Linked DNA regions of Homo sapiens. Each later gene encodes a partner of the first gene's protein in a complex. Each region holds a gene or a part of one and is shown on either strand. Other genes may lie near its edges. A codon is read from its position in the direction of its gene.

Evidence for each region. The genes of interacting proteins can lie anywhere in the genome.
Region 2: the proteins of CRHR2 (region 1) and UCN are in contact, whole or in part, in a cryo-EM structure (PDB 7TS0), measured with the Homo sapiens proteins. Residues at the interface, in NP_001874.2 of Homo sapiens: Phe68, Asn69, Gly70, Val71, Tyr73, Ile101, Leu102, Asp103, Asp104, Arg107, Asp110, Tyr113, Leu117, Asn120, Trp166 (codon at 353), Leu169 (codon at 362), Gln170 (codon at 365), Val172 (codon at 371), Asp173 (codon at 374), His174 (codon at 377), His177 (codon at 386), Glu178 (codon at 389), Thr188 (codon at 2,641), Phe191 (codon at 2,650), Asn192 (codon at 2,653), Phe199 (codon at 2,674), Phe256 (codon at 4,832), Gly257 (codon at 4,835), Lys258 (codon at 4,838), Asp265 (codon at 4,859); in NP_003344.1 of Homo sapiens: Asn84 (codon at 748), Pro85 (codon at 745), Ser86 (codon at 742), Leu87 (codon at 739), Ser88 (codon at 736), Ile89 (codon at 733), Asp90 (codon at 730), Leu91 (codon at 727), Thr92 (codon at 724), Phe93 (codon at 721), His94 (codon at 718), Leu95 (codon at 715), Leu96 (codon at 712), Arg97 (codon at 709), Thr98 (codon at 706), Leu99 (codon at 703), Leu100 (codon at 700), Leu102 (codon at 694), Arg104 (codon at 688), Thr105 (codon at 685), Ser107 (codon at 679), Gln108 (codon at 676), Arg111 (codon at 667), Ala112 (codon at 664), Asn115 (codon at 655), Phe119 (codon at 643).

The regions. Positions count from the first base shown.
Region 1 is NC_000007.14:30,658,450-30,665,469, reverse strand, and holds part of CRHR2 (corticotropin-releasing factor receptor 2), read left to right. Parts: intron 1-282; coding exon 283-400; intron 401-2,622; coding exon 2,623-2,776; intron 2,777-3,253; coding exon 3,254-3,314; intron 3,315-4,824; coding exon 4,825-4,897; intron 4,898-5,428; exon of another isoform or gene 5,429-7,020. UniProt on the Homo sapiens protein: G-protein coupled receptor for CRH (corticotropin-releasing factor), UCN (urocortin), UCN2 and UCN3. Has high affinity for UCN.
Region 2 is NC_000002.12:27,306,899-27,313,045, forward strand, and holds UCN (urocortin preproprotein), read right to left. Parts: upstream 1,548-6,147; 5' UTR 1,262-1,547; intron 1,011-1,261; 5' UTR 998-1,010; coding exon 623-997; 3' UTR 502-622; downstream 1-501. Other genes in the region: mitochondrial inner membrane protein Mpv17, read right to left, coding at 3,014-3,083, 5,001-5,053, 5,316-5,348, 5,596-5,691, 5,782-5,874, 6,096-6,147. UniProt on the Homo sapiens protein: Acts in vitro to stimulate the secretion of adrenocorticotropic hormone (ACTH). Binds with high affinity to CRF receptor types 1, 2-alpha, and 2-beta. Plays a role in the establishment of normal hearing thresholds.

The DNA of each region.
Region 1 (7,020 bases):
CTCTCCCAGACATTCTCACCTCCATTCTGGGGCCCAGCAGATAAAAGGGCCCGTGGAGAAAGTGGGGTTTGGGTGGGGTGCCAGGGCATGAATCACCAGCAGGCATGTGGGGTGCAGAGTGGGAGCTGGACTCAGAGGCCCAACTGTGGCCACCATGGGTGGGAAGTGGCTCCTAGTGCAGCCCTGCCCTCATCCCAGGCTGAGTCTCTACCTGGCCTCAGGGGGAACCCAGTCCCAGTTGACCCCTGAACCTGGCTGACCCCTGACCTGCACCTCCCACAGGAGCATTCGCTGTCTGCGGAATGTGATTCACTGGAACCTCATCACCACCTTTATCCTGCGAAATGTCATGTGGTTCCTGCTGCAGCTCGTTGACCATGAAGTGCACGAGAGCAATGAGGTCATTGCTCGGGGAGACTCGGGGCTATACCTGGGGGGCTCTGGGCTCCGGGGGCACCCATCTGTCTGTCTGGTCTCTGCTTGGACCCCTCCTTTGTCAGGAAGCTCACTACCTGCTAAAGCAGCCCTCTTCTTCTTGAGCAGCTTTTACTCTTACAAGCTCTTCCTAATGTTGAACTTCTGCAACTCCACCCCATTCTTGCCCCCACTCTGAGAACAGATCCCCTCTGCTCTCTCCAGGCTCTGAGACAGACCCCTTGGAGATTTGCACACAGAGACTGATGTTCACCAGTCCCTGCTACTCTCAGCTGGTGACAACTGACTTTCTGGCTGCTCCTTGGCTGACCCATGGCCAGAATGCTGTCATCTGGGCTGTGGCTCAGGTGCAAAACCAGACCTGAGCTCACCTCCACCCTAGCCATTGTCCCAACAGAGCTGGGCTGGGAGGAGCAGGAAGCTGCCAGGCTGGGAGCTTCACAAAGCTGACTCTAGACACATTTATCCTAGTCCACTCCTCATCTTGTGGATTCAGGTGCCCTCAAAGACCCCTTTGAGAAAAGGAAGCTAGAACTAACCTCTGTTGAGCTTTCTCTCACTTAATCCTAATGAGACCAGCAGGGATCATTTTCCCCATTACATAGACATGGAAACTGAGACTCACAGAGGTTAAGTGACTCGCCAAGGTCACATGCAGTGATGATACCTCTACATAAGGGGCTATCCCACATGCTAACTGTCCACTCTGGATTTCTGTCCATTGCTGTGTACTGTGTCCAAGCTATTGTAAAACTGTAGACTAGTCTTGGGCCATCACAGAGCCCTGTGGCACACCGACAGAGACTTCTCAGTACATTTCCTTTGGGTGGCCTGTGCCTGAGCAGACACCAGCCTGGTGTGATCCTTAACATGGTCCCACATAGAACACTGCCTCAGAATCAAACAGGTTCACTCGAGTTGAGGGTGCCTTCTAGCTCCAACGTGGGCTTGTGCTAATAGAACATCATCAACCCTGGATGAAAAGTAGGGTTGGGAGGAGGGGCTTGGTAGCTTCCCACCTCAGCAGGACTTTCTCAGAAAAAAGGAGACAGCCAGCCACAGGGACTGTGCAGGGAAGCCCAGAAGCAGCCAACAGCTCAGCACAGGAGGGTTATCTGAGAACTGGGGCTGTCAGAGCCAGACAGAGAGGATGGGCTGTGTGCAGAAGCAGAGCCCCTGACGCACAGCTCCCCGGACCTTGAGCTGGCTCCATCATTCCCCATGTCCCAGCCTTGGCTCTCAGGGTGCCCTGGGGATGAGCCTGTGGGGAAGATGACCAGGTGGGGTCTGTTGAGAGGAGCTCTGGCCTGGAAGCCCAATGTCTAGACCCTGGCCCTGCCATGGCCCACTGCGTGGCTCTAAAGGGGCAGGGTCTTCCCCTCCCTGCCTCCTTTGGGAAGGTAGCCTTGGTGCCTGGGGAAGGGTGGCCTTGCTCAGAGGGACAGGGACACATTCCCCTCTGCTGGGAAGGCACGGAACCACAGCAGGCACAACCACAGCCACAACACAGCTACCCTCATGCCTGTCTTTGCCATCCTCTATCTCCTTCAACCACCCTGGAAGGCAGGGTTACTTTTTGAGGTTCAGAGAGGTGCAGTGACTTGCCGGGGGCCGTGTACTTTGCAAGTCTCCCTCCAGAGCTAGTAATAATTGTGCCAAGTCCAGAAGTTCCCAAACCCAGAGTCTTTGGAGAATCCCCTCCCTGGCCGCAGCCCCACTTCATACACCCTTGACTCACTTTACTCACTTTTATTTTTTCATTTTTTTCTAAATGAAATTCCATATCCCATCCCCAAAAGGAAGCAGGTCTGACTTGCTATGGATTGAAAATGACTCAAAAAAACTAAAATGAAAACACAACAAGATGGTTGAATTCCAGCCTCTGCCTACAGAAAGCTCAGAGCCAGACTCTTGCTCTCTTTACTAGAATGAAAAATTAGAAAGAGTTAGAGAGAAGTTAAAAAAAACACGTTGGCCCCAGTGGAGAATGGCACCTTAACTTAATCTGAAAGTGTGAAAGAGCACTGGAGAAGGATGAAGCTTTTCAGAGTGAGGTTCGCTGGTATTTGATGGCATGTCCACGAACCCCCTTTGGGGAGCCCTGTGTCTTGTTGCCCTGCCTGGGGATGGGTATGTCCTACCTGGGCCCCAAGCTGCCTCCTGACAGCCTCTCTGCCCTGCACACAGGTCTGGTGCCGCTGCATCACCACCATCTTCAACTACTTCGTGGTGACCAACTTCTTCTGGATGTTTGTGGAAGGCTGCTACCTGCACACGGCCATTGTCATGACCTACTCCACTGAGCGCCTGCGCAAGTGCCTCTTCCTCTTCATCGGATGGTGTGAGGGTCCCAGGGGCAGCAGGGCCTAGTTGGGGGGAGGACTTCTCACCAGGCCATTTCCCTTCGTCTTGGGTCCAAGGACCAGAGCCTGGCCCTGCCCTCCACCCCCAGCGCAGTCCGGTGGATGCAGCTACTTCCCTCCATGCTGGTGAGGAACAAGCAAAGGATCTCTCCAAAGGATATTCCTCAAATAGCTCTTCTCCCCCTGCCAGGAAGGACCTGTCCAAAGGCCTTTGTCTCTGGCTCAGAAACTGGCTGGCTCTACTTCTCTATCACAAAATCACGCAGCCCTGCTTGGAGAGAGGGGCAGGGGCATGGGCCAGGTGTTGAGGGACAGGGCACCCCTGGGGTTGTGGGTGGCCTGCTGTTGGAAGAGTAAAAACATGATCCTAGCCCTGTTGTGGTACCCCACGGTATGTCCTACAAGAAAGTCCCTGTCCATCTGTCCCCTGCAGCCCAAGTCTTTCCTTCTTTCAGGCATCCCCTTCCCCATCATCGTCGCCTGGGCCATCGGCAAGCTCTACTATGAGAATGAACAGTAAGTGGATGGGCCAGCCATGGGGGGTCATGGGGAAGGGAATGGGGGTGTTAGGACAGGTCAGCCTTGGGCTCTGGCCAAGCCGTGGAGCAGGAATTGTAGCCACACCTAGACAGATCCACGTTCCTGTTGTCCTTAAATTGAAAAAAATAGTCCTGCACTCAGAGGTACTCACATGGTAGGGCTCAAGGAACTTTGCTGAATTAAGTTAGGAATTGTGGTTCCTTGAAGTGCCCCCCGACCCAACGCATGACCCCTTTGGTCTTTGTAAGGCCTCCTCAGACTTGGATGTGGCAGCTCTGGCCCGGGGTATGTGGAAGGGGCCAAGGCCGCACATGACATCCAGAGCTGTCCATGAGCATTTAAAGAGTCCATGAGCATTTAACAGAGCTTGTTTTTTTTTCTGAAGTCTCAGTCTCTGCCTGGGTGCAGTGTCCCATCCTGAGGTTCTCCCTATGCCAGAGGCTGTAATATGCTGAGCCACAGCCCAAATGACAGCAACTCTGGCCATGGGTCAGCCAAGGAGCAGCCAGAAAGTCAGGTGTCACCAGCTGAGAGCAGCGGGGACCAGGGAACATTAGCCTGTATGCAAATCTCCAAGGGGTCTGTCTCAGAGCCTGGAGAGAGCAGAGGGGATCTGTTCTCAGAGTGGGGGCAAGAATGGAGTAGAGTTCCAGGAGCTCAACATTAGGAAGAGCTTGTAAGAGTAAAAGCTGCCCAAGAAGAGGGCTGCCTTGGTAGGTGGTGAGCTTCCTGTCAAAGGAGGGCTCCAAGCAGAGGCCAGAAACCCTGGGAGACAGGGAGAATCCTATCTGAGGCAGGTCTGCACTGGATGACCTCCAAGATTTCAGAGGAATGAGTTCCCCAAAGTTGATGGCCCCTCCCTGTGGTCCAGTAGTTGCTGGCCGACCCAGACCCTAAAGCATTTCCCCTGACCAGCATCCCCGGAGAATGAATTATGCCTCTGGCAGCCAGTGAGGCCAGCCAGGCAGCAGCTCCCCTCACTGGGTGCACAAGCATTGGCTCAAAGACGCAAAATCCCAGGCTGGAGGTAGGAAGGCTCCACTTCCACATCTGCTGCTTTGTGTGGCCGAGTGAGTGCCTGGCACACGGAACAGCGGGTTTCAAGCAATATGGGAACAGGTGGCCTAAGGCAATTGGCCCTGGGCCAGCAAGGGGGAGCCCAGCTCTCCCTTTATTCCTGTGCCTCCTGCATGCCCAGTCCTATGCCTAGCAGTCTGCAATGGGGCAGGTAAAAGAGGAGGAGAAAGAGACCCATGGCCTGTCCTCAGTCGGGCTGGGGAGATCAGACCCACCATGTAGAGCAAAAGACAGCCTGGTGGGTAAGGGTGGTCAGTGGAGCTGGTATTTCCACCAAGGCTTTCTGGGAAGGGGCAGTCCTGGAGATTGGGTCTCAGGAAGGGTAAAGCTGGAGGACCCTGGGCCCAAGTCTGTGGGGGTCCCCCAGTTCCAGCTCAGGAGGCCCCCTACAGCCACCCCATCTTCACAGGTGCTGGTTTGGCAAGGAGCCTGGCGACCTGGTGGACTACATCTACCAAGGCCCCATCATTCTCGTGCTCCTGGTAAGCCCTCAGCGGTGGCTGGGATGGGGCTGGGTGCCAAGAGGACAGAAGAGGGCCCACCCAGGCAGAGACGCTGGGAAAGATGTGGCATGGGCAGCCCTGCGCACACACTCTATATGCCACCCCCGTACCCTGTCCATGCCACCCTGTGCCCCAGCACCACCCGGCCTTCCCTTCCTCATGCTCGATGCCCTGGCGCAGCCCTGCACCACTCTGCTGACCTCAGGGCTCTTTCTCTGGGAGGAGAAAGGATCTGATGGGTAGACTTCCTGTGCCCTCCCGGTCTGACACTGTACAATGCTGAGAAAGCCAGGTGAGCAGGCAGCTGGTGACAAGAGAAGAGTGTGCGGGCTTCTGTTCATTCCAGACCTACGTTCCCCTCAGCCCCCAGTGACCCTCTCCAGGTCCAGCCCACCACCCCCAGCCTGAAGCGGTGAATACCGGGATGCAGCATAATGAGGAATTGTTCCTTGTCCAGCTCCCTGCCCTTTGCCAAATGTATTTGCATCTAAGGTATAATTGCCACACATCTTTAATCCACAATGAGCTTTAATTAAGAGAGAGTTCAAGTAGAGGCTGCATTCTGCAAAAGGAACCCATTATATATCATACCTTTAAAAAAAAGAGAGAGAGATAAAGAAAGAAAGACATACAAAAAAGCCCCGTAAGAAATTGGCATTTACGTAAGACTTATTTCAGGCTCAGTAATTTCAGGCTCCTGTATGTACCAGCTTCCTTAAAGGGCCACAGTTCCTTCTGGGAGACTCAGCGAGAGTGCCATCTCCTCCTGCACACAGAAGGTGCCTGGTGGGGCTTTCTTTTGTCTACCTTGGAGACAATTATTATTTATCTCTTTTATTTTCTTACTCTCCTTTTTCTGTGACTTCGGGTTTCATTTGACCTCCATCTTTGGAGTGTCCTTGATATATGTGAACTGATGAAGACTAGGAAGGTTTTTCACCCACTGCTGGAAATTCCACCGTCAGGGCTTGGTTCGCTTCAGAGGCAGAAGCCAGGTTTTGTCAGCAGCTAGTAGGATTGTCCTTGGACTCCCAGCTGCAGTGAGTCACTCACCCCTCAGTGTGTATGGAAACCCCATGAGATCCTTTCCCTCCCAACCAGCTGCCAAGGGCCATCCTGGAGGAATAAGGCTTTTGATGAGCCTGGAACTGAGCCAAGGAAGGCTGGCCTGGATGGGGGACCAATGGTGGCAAAGAGTAAGCCCCAACTGTAAAGATGTTGGAAGGGTGGTGAGGAAATGCCAAGAGAAAGGGAGGCGAGGAACGCAAGAGCTCAGTGTCAAGACCCAGCTCCATGCTTCCTCTTCCAGACCCATTCTCTGGCTCCACCCCTGCGTCTGTGCTCACGAGCCCTTTCCTTCTTTCCTTTGGGCCCAGCTCTTTGCACCAACAGGGGCTTCCACATTCCAAGCTGAGCCCTTCCAGAAGCTCTATCTACATTATTTCCAACCCTTGCATGCTCAAGTCCTAAAAGAAGTAGGGTTATGCTCTCCATTTTACAGAGGAAGAAGCTGAGAGAGATGAAGTGGCTTGCCCAAGGTCACCACTAATAGCTAGCAGAGCAGAGGCTCAAAGGCAGGTCTCCTGCTTTGTCCCCACCATCTGCCTGTTGTCCTCGAGGTTGGACACGTGTTTGGTGTTCCTGCCATCCCTACACTCCCCAGCAGCTCACAGCTGCATTTCTGCTGCTAAGAGACACTCACTTATTTCTGGTTCTGAGAAGTGAATCAGGTGGTTGAATTTGCAGGAAGCCTGACTTCTTGCTGGTGTTGTCATTGTTGGTGTCATGGGAAAGGATTGGCAGTCACTAGGCCAGACACAGGTCTTAGTGGTCTCTGTGACTATTTCAGCCCATGCTGATCTTCTAAGGCAAGCTCTGTGGTTAGGCCCCTCGGGGGCAGACAAGGAAGCAGGAGCTCATGAGGTTAAGCAACTTACCCAAGGCCACACAACTGCAAATTGGAACAGTCAAAATTTGAGCCATGAGACTAGGACTTGGTGCTTCAGTTCATTTGGGAGGGGGGCCTCATCTTCAGTTCTTAGCCCATCTGCCATTTCTCCAGGTCTTTTTGACACCTTAGGAAAGATGTCATCTCCCCCACC
Region 2 (6,147 bases), on another chromosome or scaffold:
CCGACCCTGCTCGAGAGCCCGCGCTAGAGTCGGGGAGGATCTGCGCAGAGACCGCAGCATCACCCAAATCGGCGCCGGCCCCGGGAGGATCTCAATAAAGAACTCGAGCGTCCCAGACCCGTATCTCCTTTCGCTGCCCAACCCCGCAGCCTGGGCTTCGAAGGCGACCCGCCCACCATCCTGCCCTTCCCAGAACCTGAGACCGTCTGGGGGGCGGAAGCCAAATGAACCCCTATTGGGCACCTCTGTGATGCCAGGAGCGAACTGGTGAGCCCAGCGCCCTGGGAAGAGGGCCGAGGGCGGGGCGGTGGTGCCGGGACCTCTGAGGTCCTGGGGATTTGGGGACCCTTGGGGTCCACATGCACCTGGCTGACCTGGCTGAAAGCCGCTGTCTCGGAGCCCCCCACAGCATTTTGTTCCCCTCCCGCTGGCCCGGGGGCCCCACCTTCCCACGGGTTCCCACGCTGCTGTGACTGCCCTGCCTCTACGACAAAAGCCAACGGGTCTTCAGTACTTTTATTAAAAAATAGTCACGCAGACAGTGCCCTGGTGGCTCTGCCCCGCATCCCAACTCTGGGGTGGGGGAAAGGGGTCAACGTTTTCGCAGCCCCAAACCGGGCCATCACTTGCCCACCGAGTCGAATATGATGCGGTTCTGCTCGGCGCGCTCCCGCTGGCTCTGCGTCCGCGCCAGCTCCAGCAGGGTCCGCAGCAGGTGAAAGGTGAGGTCAATGGACAGAGAAGGGTTGTCCCGCCGCGGCCGCTCGCCTGCCGTCCCGAGTCCCAATCGGCCGGGCCCCGCGCGGCGCGGGAAGCGCTCCGCCAGCAGCAAGAGGAGCGCGCGGGCCCCGCCACCCTGGTTCCGTGCCCCGGGGCTCCAGCGCAGACTCGGGTCCTGGACCCCGGCCGCCTCGGGGCTCCTCTGGCTGCTCCCAGGGCACAGCTGTACCAGGAGCAGCAGCGCGGCCAGCAGCGCTGCGCGTCCCGCCTGCCTCATGGTGCCGCCGGCCCTGGACACACAGGGGCAGCGCAGGGTGAGGTGCGCCTGGGACAGCTGCAGGCCGCCGCTCCCCTCCCCGCGCTCGCCCGGCGACCCCTCCGGCCGCCGCCCAATGCCCGCAGCCTGCCCTCCAGCCCCAGCCACTGCGCCAGTGCTGTTCCATCCCTTCCACCCAGCCTCCCTCCCCGGAGGAGCGTGGTGGCTGAGCTGAGCGGAGTCCTGGTGCAGGGGGAGGCTGGGCGGACGCTCTGAGCCACTCACAGGTTGTCGGCGAGCGTCTGTACGGTCCAAGATTGAGCTCCAGTCTCTGTCCCTCGGGGCAGGCTGAAGACGCCTTGGGGAACACAGGGTCTGTCCCGGGGCTGTCGCCAGCCTTATATAGTGCCAGGACAGCTCCGACTGACGTCAGCGAAGAACATGCACTGATTGTAGAAGCAATGACAGCCACAGCTTCGAGTCTGACGGCTGGCGGGCCCCCGGAGGGGCGCACCTCCCTACACCAGCCTTCGTGCCCCTGGGGCTAGCGCTGGAAGCAGCACTGGACGCAGGAAAGCGAGAAGCCGGCTGGGGCGTAAAGACTGCTCTGGGACCCACGGGAGTCCCTCGCCCCGCTTAGAACAGCCAGCAATGACTAGGGCCGTCCCCAGACCAGACTAGTCCGGGTCGCGTGTTCTGACACACGAAAGGGAGGCGGGACCGTGAGGCTGTCCATGGTGCTGACCCCGTCCTCTGCCTCTAGAAGTGGCCAGAAATGTGAGAACGCTGTGCCGCTGGAACCCACTGCCTCCCTGCAGCTATCAGTTCTGCAAATGCAGGCATCAGGAGTCCACCGCTGGCACTCAGCCAACACAGTGGGACCCACTGAGAGGCAGTCTGCCACAACCAAAGTCTCCCAGCATTCTTATCTTTTTCCAGCCCCAGGATCCAAATTGTAGGGCTGTCTGACAGGCACCATGTAACAGAGGGTCTCTAGCATCCGAGTGCTTTCAGACCACAAATGGCTGGCCCATCTGCTTTTGAGTTTGCCAAAGTAGTTTAGCAAAGTTCAGTTTCTCTCCTGGGAATCATAGCAGCAGTGTAACTCTGCCCATGAGCAGCAAAGAAATATGGGTTCAAGTTTCTGCTAACTCCTGGTGTGGACAGGTCACCTCCCTCCTACCAACCTCAGGGTCCTCATTTGTAAGACTGGGCTTGGCCAGGCGCGGTGGCTCACGCCTGTAATCCCAACACTTTGGGAGGCCGAGGCAGGCGGATCACGAGGTCAGTAGTTTGAAACCAGCCTGGCCAATATGGCGAAACCCCATCTCTACTAAAAATACAAAAATTAGCCGGGCGTGGCGGTATGCGCCTGTGGTCCCAGCTACTCAGGAGGCTGAGGCAGGAGAACTGCTTGAACCCAGGAGGCGGAAGCTGCAGTGAGGCAAGATCGCGCCACTGCACTCCAGCCTGGGAGACAGAGCAAGACCCTGTCTCAAAAAAAAAAAAAAAAAAAAAAAAAAAAATTGGGCTTGGTGGTCTCTTGGCTTCTTTCCAGCTCTAGAAATGACTCCCCAATAGTTTTCTGCTTAAAAACTTACTCATTACCACTGCAGATTCCGGATTACATATTTAATAACATATTTACTGAGGCACCATATAAAGGGTTCCGGGAGTCTCTAAAGAGCTGGAGCTACAAGAAGCCTAGGCAGGGTTAGAGTAACAAATGTGTCTATGAAGAGTGGGGATGAGTGGCATTTGCTGGGATATGGGTGTAAAGTTGATAAGGTCATGAAGGTTCAACAGATATTTATGGAGTGCCTAGTATGTGGTGGGAATAAGACTATTATCAAGGGCTCTAAAGCAGTCAGTGTACATTTTAGAGTGAAGAGGGGCATTGCAGGGTGCTAGTCCTCTTAAGCTCTGACCGGCAACCCAACCCCGTGGAAACTGGTATGCCCACTTTGAGGAGGTTGTCTGACCGTTCCAGGGTCAAGCTGCATCACTGCAAGGTGGAAACGATGGAGTGAGGCAGGCTTAGAGCCGATGTGCCTTCCAGGACAGGTAGGAGTTCCAGATAACAGCAACACATTGGACAACGGCCAACCTAAGGAACAGGAATAACACAATGAAGAGGAGGAAGGCTAAGCAGTGAGCAAGGGCTGGAGATGGGAGCATGAAATGGCAAAGGAGGGATCATGACAAAGGATTGGCAGGTTTAGGTCTCTTTCCTTCAGCACCTTTTTTTTGAGATGGAGTCTCCTCTGTTGCCCAGGCTGGAGTGCAGTAGCACAATCTTGGCTCACTGCCTCCCGGGTTCAATCAATTCTCGTGCCTCAGCCTCCCAAGTAGCTGGGACTACAGGTGTGCTCCACCACACCTGGCTAATTTTTGTATTTTTAGGAGAGACAGGGTTTCACCATGTTGGCCAGGCTGGTCTCGAACTCCTGACCTCAAGTGAGCCACCCACCTCGGCCTCCCAAAGTGCTGGGATTACAGGTGTGAGCCACGACACCCAGCCCTTTCAGCACCCTATGAAGGGCCTGTGTGGCTTGCACTAAAGGACAACTGGCTCAAATTCTAGTGCCATCCCAGAGCTCTGTTTCCTGGCTGAGAGCCTCAAAGGCTAAATATTCAGCGGCTCTCTTGCCATGCATAGCTCTGTTAATCACAGAAAGGGCCCCTATCTGGGCCCCTTCTAAGTTCATTGATCTGTCTTGTACCAGCTGAGATTTCATCTTCCGAAATGTACGGACTATCATATAAAGTAGCATCTTTCTGTTTTAAATTAACCTTGCTCTGGTTTCAAAGAGTGTTGCAAAGGACCCTAATGTTTAGGATTTGGTTCATAAGTCTGTATTCCTTTTTTGTTTTTTCGGGTTTTTTTTGAGACGGAGTCTCGCTCTGTTGCCCAGGCTGGAGTGCGGTGGCAAGATCTTGGCTCACTGCAACCTCCGCCTCCCAGGTTCAAGCGATTCTCCTCCCTCAGCCTCCCGAGTAGCTGGGACTACAGGCACCTGCCACCACACCCAGCTAATTTTTGTATTTTTAGTAGAGACAGGGTTTCAACATATTGGCCAGGCTGGTCTCGAATTCCTGACCTTGTGATCCACCTGCCTCAGCCTCCCAAAGTGTTGGGATTACAGGCGTGAGCCACTGTGTCCAGCCTTTTTTTTTTTTTTTTTTTTTTTTTTTTTTGGAGACAGGGTCGTCTCACTCTGTCACCAGGCTGAAATGCAGTGGCACAATCTCAGTTCACAGCAACCTCCATCTCACAGGCTCAAGTGATCCTCCCACCTCAGCCTCCCGAGTAGCTGGGACTACGGGCACATGTTACCATGTGACTGGCTAATTTTTTGTATTTTCTGTAGAGATGAGGTCTCACTATATTGCCCAGGCTGGTGTGAAACTCCTGGACTCAAGCAAACCTCTTGCCTCAGCCTCCCAAAGTGCTAGAATTACAGGTGTGAGCCACCGTGCCCAGCCAGTCTGTATTCGTTTTAGCTATGCTACTCATGTACATTTTGGCCCTGTTCCCTCTGAAGCGTTCCATATTTTCCCCTGTTCCCACGATCCTTCACCTTCAAGCATTTGAACCACACATCTTCAGTGCCACTATCTTTTTGGGTGCAGTTCAGCAACTGTCTTTATTGTGAGTGTCTGACCAGGCTCCTACTTGGCCTTCTGGTCTACCTCTCTGTCTAACCTAGGCTGCAGCACCCCAGCCACTGTCCCTCCAGATATGCCATCAAAGACGGAGCTCAGGTGGGATGGAGACAAGGGTGGTAGAAGCAGGATCCTCCCTAGGGAGATGAAGAAGGTCAGTGGGCAGACACTCTGGGACAGTTTCCGGAAATGGCAAGACATTCTGAATAACACGCTTGGGAATCTGAGGAACTCTGATCACGGCTCAGTGTTCCGTTTGGGGGTCTAAGGTAGCTCAAGGTTGAAATGAGAATCATTTTGTCTCCAACTGTTGGTAACGTGGGTCTTCCTTGATGGGTGGGGTAGGGGTGCAACATACCTGTAATGAAGGGGGACCAGGTAGAAGTTGGCTAACTGCACAGCAGGCCATAGCTGCAAGAGAAAATGTAAAGGTTGGATGGCTGCCCCACCACCTGACCCCAGACTCACTGTCTTGCCTGGCCCTACCCCAACTTCTGCACACAAGAAAAAGGTGAACAGTTGGGTGATGGCTTCCCTATTTATGGTGCCCATCCTGGGAATGAAAGAGTAATCCCAACGGAAGGGTTTCCCATGTCAGGAGGACCCCCCAATCCCAGGACAGTTCTAGACTTAAGGAAGCAGGAGAACAAGCAGTTGAGGTGTCAGCTCTTACATAGTAGTTGGTGATAAGGGCATCAGGATAATCCTGGGGAGACAGAGAAGGAACAAATTAACACTTGCGCCTCCAAGCAGCTCCCACTTCCCAGTATGAATGTCACACACAGACTTGGGTTCAAAGAGCACATTCCTGCACCATAACCCTCAGCTCCTCTCCTCCATGGCCTGGGGCCCTACCTGCACTTACCCCCTTTTTTATCCCTGTAAAACCTGTCTTCTTCCCCTGGGCTGTCAGCCCGCCAGCCAGAGACATTCTCCACACCTGCCCAGCTCACCCGCTGTAGTTTGGCCCAGTTGTCCTGGGCTGACAGTCCATTAAGTGCCCCTACCAGTGGGAGAAAGCAGCCTAGAAAACACGGGGCAAAGCCCCCCTAGGGAAGAGAAATTAAAGTCCTATGAGTGCTGAAATCCCCACCTACCCCCAACACAGCTCACCCTCCCCACTCTGTTCTCCTGCTCACCTGATCCAACAACATCTTCTTCAGTGCATCCACTTTGGTGGTGCCAGGGATGAACCGATCCAAAACCTTGTACCAGCCTCCTACCACAGGGCCCTGGAAGTAAACCCCAGATAGCAGCAGGCTGCAGTGAGGGAGCCCTAGGCCTCTACCTCACTAAGCTCCCTGCCCCAAGTATCAGAATAGGGGAAGTGGACACTAAGAAAAAAGAGGGCGGCAGGTTGGCTTAGGTGTGAGAGTCCAAGGGAAGCCAAAGGATGGCAAAGAACTAAGACCACTGTTGAGTCCACTGAAGCCCTGTTGAGGGGAGAACTTACCACAAAGCCACAGCCCAGGGACACCATGGTCAGAGTCCGGCCTCTCTGGTGT